Linked DNA regions of Homo sapiens: region 2 is linked to region 1. Evidence: fine-mapped expression QTL. A gene starts in region 1. The other region holds a variant in brackets. All regions are shown on one strand. Distances are from middle to middle.

Region 1 (2,791 bases):
TGGGGAGGAGGGGTGTCTGAGGAGCACTCCCTCTCCCTGGGAGCTCTGCAGAGGAAGAGGGTCTCTGGCAATCAGCATCCTCTACCTCCACCTCTCCAGCGGGCGACCCCTCAGAGAAGGTCTCCCAGTGAGTCTGGAATACGTGCCGAGTGCCTGGAGTGCTATTGTGTGTATGTGAGAGCACATTGGTGAGGCTGCCCATGCATGCCACTGTGGACAAAGACAGATGCGATCGTGTGTGTGTGGGGACTGCGTATATGTTTTTGTCAGTGTGTGTGACCACGAGTCAGCTGGGTATGTGTGCTTGTGGGTATCAGGTGCATGGCTGTGCGTACATGTGTGCGTAAGAGTCGGTGCATTTGTGTTTCAGCGCGGCTAAGGCCCTGACTGAGATGCTGTGTGTGCGGGGGTGGGTGTGACTGAATGCGGGCACGGGTGTCCGTCTGTTTATACGTGTGTTTGCGTGTTTGGGTGTGCAGGTGGCTCTGCGTAAGCGTCTGTGTGCAGGGGGTCGGCACATGGGGGAGGATGCCCATGGTTGGGTAACCGCAGGTCCGCTTGACCCTCTGCCACCTAGGACTGTGTCTATACGGCGTCTGGGCTACAGTGTGTTTGAGTTGCCGTGTGCGTTTCCGTTGCGGGGTGTGGGTTGCCACGGGGCAACTGCATTTTTCTGCGTCTTCATGGCCAGGGGTACAGGGGGCGTCGGGCTTTTCCTGGGGGTTTTTCTGTGTGCGTGTGTAATTATGTGCTTAGTTCACATCTTCATAGTGCGCCTTTGTGTTTTCCTGGGTATCTAACCATTGCACGTGTGCCCGGGACTTCAGCGATAAGTGTTTCGGTGTTCCTGCGTGCGGATTTGTGCTCTCCGGGGAGGTCTGCGGCCCAGGTTCGATTCCTGCGACTTGTCCTAGGCAGGCCTGTATGTGCGCGGCGGCCGCGTGCTGTACAGTGTGAGGGAACGTGTACCAAACGCTCGCGGGATACCTGTGCCCGTCTAGCCAAGAGTGCACCCGTGTGCGCGAGCGGGCTTCTGGGACGCCGCCGTGGTCGGGGGCGGCCCTGCGAGGGGAGGGGGTCACAGGGACTGGCCGGCGCCGGCCCCGTGCGCACGGAGGCGGGGGCGGGGGGCGGGGGCCGCGAGGGGGGAGGCGGTACGAAAAGGGCGGCGCGCGCGGCGGCGGCGGCAGCTCCCCGGCAGCGGCGGTGGAGAGCGCAGCGCGCAGCCCGGTGCAGCCCTGGCTTTCCCCTCGCTGCGCGCCCGCGCCCCCTTTCGCGTCCGCAACCAGAAGCCCAGTGCGGCGCCAGGAGCCGGACCCGCGCCCGCACCGCTCCCGGGACCGCGACCCCGGCCGCCCAGAGATGACCGCGACCGAAGCCCTCCTGCGCGTCCTCTTGCTCCTGCTGGCTTTCGGCCACAGCACCTATGGTGAGTTCCCCGGCGGCCCGGCTCGCGCCCCCTCTGGGGAAGCCTGCGACTCCCCGCCGGCCGCCCGGTGCCCCGCACGCCCCGTCTCGTGAGCCCCAACTCCGCCCGTCCCGCCTAGCCCTAAGCCCCGCGCTGTGCCTGTCTCGCCCTACCCACCACGCTCGCATGCCAAGGCCCGTCCCAGGGGTCCCAGGGCGCAGGGGATGTGTGAGACCCCCAGCCCCTTCCCGCCCTGCAGAAGTGGCGCCAGAGGGGTGTCGGTGCGCTGAGCAAGGAGGTATGGAAAAATGGGGTGCTGTTGTGGAGTCTTCTATGAAAATACTCTGGGGTGCAACTTTGGGGTGTCCCTGTGTGAGCGTTCTGGAACAGGTCTCGGGGCGGGAGTGGGGGACGACTTTGCCGTCTTAGCCCCCAATTCCCAGAGAAGCCCAGCCTGAGCCCTTCCTGCGTGGCGCGTTTCTGTAGGTGAGGGGCTGCGACACTTCTGTCTGCAGCGGCCATCTGTCTCTGACAGCGAGAGAGTTGCCCCCTTCCTGCAGCGCCCCCCCACTCATTGCACCAGTGGTTGTAAGGGGGCTGTCTAGAAAGCTGGGGAGCTGGTTGAGTAAATGCACACAGTAGGTGCCTGTTAAAGTGTCAGAATCTCTAAGCAGTGTTGTTGCAACCTCAGCCCGCTAAGCAAAACCCTGTGTCGTCATCGTTTTTTTAATGCGAAGAGTCTGGGGTAGGGGAAAGAGGGAAGATTTGACCTGGGTGCCCGGCTTAATAGGGATGAACCTTAAAAAGAATGCAGACGCCTTACTGGGGCGCCCACCAGGTGAACCTGTCTGGGCTTTCCCGGAGTTGAACACCTCAAAATCTGCTCCTCTTTTCAGCTCAGGTTGCAAAAGTGACGGTCAGGCTGCATGCCCAGGGCTCAACATATTTCCCTCCACGGTCCCCGTCCCCGCTGTTAGGAGGACTTGAGGTGTCGTATTTGCTTTTGGGAGTCCGAGGAGAAGGTGTTTCTCCTGCTCCTAAGAACGAGGGAGAGTGTACTGTGGTCATTTCATTGCTGGGAACGTGGCAGAGATGTTTTTCCTGAGTGCACTGAGCCCCATCCATGCTCGGATAGGAAGTGCCTACTGTGTGCCAGGCTGGTAGGACCCAAGAGGGCTGTTGGTGCCCTCGAGGGCAGTGGTGGGCTGTGTGGGCGAAGACAGCCTTTGCCTTGGCCTGGGGCCTGGTGGGGTGAATTGTATAACCTTTCTTGTACCTCAGGGGCTGAATGCTTCCCGGCCTGCAACCCCCAAAATGGATTCTGCGAGGATGACAATGTTTGCAGGTAATAGAGTGGCTCCTCAGAGGCAGCTTGTAGGGGCC
Region 2 (2,791 bases), 47 kb before region 1:
GAAAGCCAGGAGGGATCTGAGGCCTGGACAGGGGGCAAGAAGTCCCCTCCCCTGCATTCTCAGCCTGGAGCCCAAAGATGTGGCATTCAGAGGCACCTGTTTGGACCATCAAAGCATCTGTGAGGTCTACCAGGCACTTCCATGGCTGGGAAACATCAGTGGCCCCTTCCCCAAGAGGAACACTACAGGCTTCATGAACCACGGGGCCGAAGGGCCCAACCACTCCCTTTAGCCCCTCAGGGTAAGCCCAGCCAGGCTGCTGGGGCATCCACAAGGTCCCAGATGCCACCCAGAGACTTGCTTACCTCCGGGACTAGAGAGCTCACTACCTCATTGAACGTGCATTCCTTTGTGGAGGAGGTCTCATAGCTAGGAAAGGGCTTTCTAGTACTGCTCCGGGGCCACAGCGCATCTGGAGGTGGCAGTCATGACCTTCTGGGCCTCTTTCCTCCAAACCAAGTCTCAGGGCTTCTCCTATCTGTTCCTTGCAAGACCCACCGCAGTGCCCTCTCCTGAACAGGCATCAGTTGTCATTTTCTCCCAGAACTGAGTGTTAGTGCCTAGGTACAGTCTGCAGCCGACTCTCACCTCCCCAGCTATGAATACCATGCTCCTGTTAATTAAGCCCTAGGCGATCTGTGTTTTTTTTTGTTGTTTTTTTTTCTGATTGATCCATCACCCCATTGAGTCTTGCAGGGTGGTGTTGGTCCTTCTGGTGGTAATTGTGAATGAAGCAGGGGGACGACACATCCAGCTTGGGGAAACTGAGGCCCAGAGGGACAAGGCCTGGATCAAAGTTACACAGTTCATGGATGGCAGGGCTCAGGGAAGAGCCCTCCTGACCTCTGCCAGCAGCCTGCCCAGCCAGCACACGGTTCCTCCATCTAGGCCGAAAGATGGGCCTATGTCCATTCTCCCTCCTCCCTCCACCCTTCCCGAGGCCCTCTCAACCCTCAGCCAAGCCAGGGAAGGTAGAACGTGAGCGCCCCGTGGGTCCTCAGATGGTCTTGATTACCGACAGAAGGAGAAAGGCCTTTGCCCTGTGTCCTGCTAACTGTTCCAGGGAATCCAGTGCATCCAGAGGCCTGGGGGCCAAGGTCTCACACAGCTGACCGCGTCCAGCACGTTCTGCAGACTCCGGGTGTTTCCAGAGATCGCTGGGCCTGCACATTCCTTCCTGCTGAGGGAACTCCCCAGCAAGGCAGAGGAGGCGGCCAGCTCCAGGAGGGCCTTGTGGTGGGAAAGGAAAGAGCTTGTGTCCACAGGCGGCTAATGTGCACCAGGTGCTGACGAGTGTCTCTCTTGTGAC[A/G]TGAGAAAGTGGGCGCCACACTCTTCTTCTCTTGCAGAGGAGAATGTGACTTAGAGAGGAGATGATAATGGTGGTCCCCTTCCAGGCTGTTGACAACTGACTTGGTTCATGTGAGAGCTCAGCTCAGAGCCTGGGACCAGTGGGTGTTTACCAGGAATTCTACTGCTGTTGTCCCAAGCCACATGGCTAGGTGGCTGCAGACCAGGGATTTGAACCCGTGTCCAGGAGACAACCCAGGGTGGCTCCTTTGTGGTAAAGGCCACGCTGTTTGGGGATGGTCCTCCCTTCCTGCACTGCCACCAGCCTGATCTCCAACCCAGAGGCTCCCAAGTGGTCACAACCCTGGTTCGAGTGTCCTGAGGACCGGTGGGTGCGAGGCGACAGCCCCTCCCTCCAGTACCGGCTGAGAACGCCTGGCTGTGGGAAGCCGAGGATGACCACCCCTGAACTGGGGTCCCCTTCCCTCCGCCTCCCCCCATTGTCACAGGCCACGTGGGTGTCCTGCGGGCAGGGTTCTGCCACCACCACAGAGGGCTGGCCGGCAGCCCGCAAGTTTCCACCAACTAATAAGTTTTACAAACCTCCAGCCTCATAAAAAAGCTCACAGTGGCCTGAACAACCATGGCCAAGAGTCTTGTGGGAAAGCGGATGGCCTTGAGGCCAGGCAAAGGCGATCTCGGCCAGAGGCCACTTCCTGCCTCTACTCAGACCTTTCCTAAGGCTTCAGACGTGACCATGCCCCTGTGGCCCCCTGGATAAAGACTATGCTCCTCCCTCGAGGGACCGGAAGAGGCCCTCAGCCCCAGCTACCGTGCCCCAGCAGCCCCACGCCCTCCTGCTGCCAGTGAGCTGTCTCTGCACTCCTGCTGCTGAGCGCAGGCCTTTGCGTGGGCCTGAATGCCCTTCCTGTCCCACCATTAGGGACACAGAGATAACTGACACTTCTGTATCCCAGAGGGCCCCCGGGGGACACGGCATGTGATTGGACAGTGATATCACAGGCTCTGACTGGGACCTGAGAGGGAGCAACACGGAGTCCGCATCTGGCTTCTCGTCCGAACGTGGGCCAGGGTAGCAAGGGGGCACCCCGGCTGCAGGAAACAGCAGGCTCCAGGCAGAAGGGTCCATGATGCAAACACGTCCCTGAGCAGCCCGCTGGGGACCGGAGGGGCTGATGTGGAGAGTGCCTGGAGCAGAAGCGAGGGGGCATGGGTGGGGCAGTGGGCTGAAGGAGTGCGTGGGTTGTGGCAGAATTTTCAAGAAGGTGGGAGATGGGGGACACACACGTGGAGGCTGATGCTTTCAGGAGAGAGGGACGTTGGGTTTGTGATTCTGGGGTGGGCCTCTGGGTATGAGCTGGGATTTGGGCACGTAAGAGCCTTGGGCACATGGGGTCTTCAGTGGTAGGAGGATGAGGCCACCAGTAGCATGGCAGGAGGGGAGGGCATGGAGCCAGGACTGGCCCTCAGAGTGGCAGCTTTA

Alleles and levels. Positions count from the first base shown, and alleles are read on the strand shown. Sizes are in standard deviations (SD) of each study's normalised expression.
With allele A in place of G in region 2, the expression in left ventricle of the gene that starts at base 1,186 in region 1 is higher (moderate effect, 0.51 SD a copy in GTEx).

Evidence for each region.
Region 2: its variant is fine-mapped to the expression of DLK1 in left ventricle (GTEx, PIP 0.97).

What each region holds. Positions count from the first base shown.
Region 1 is chr14:100,725,707-100,728,497 of GRCh38, forward strand. DLK1 (delta like non-canonical Notch ligand 1) reads left to right here and starts at 1,186. Exons shown (of 5, transcript NM_003836.7): 1 at 1,186-1,429; 2 at 2,690-2,753. The coding sequence starts at 1,363.
Region 2 is chr14:100,678,767-100,681,557 of GRCh38, forward strand. No RefSeq gene overlaps it. Among named protein-coding and RNA genes, the nearest start is that of LINC00523, 23 kb to the left of the region's middle. RefSeq lists enhancers at 570-1,163, 1,758-2,351. The variant A/G (reference allele first, on the strand shown) is at 1,310.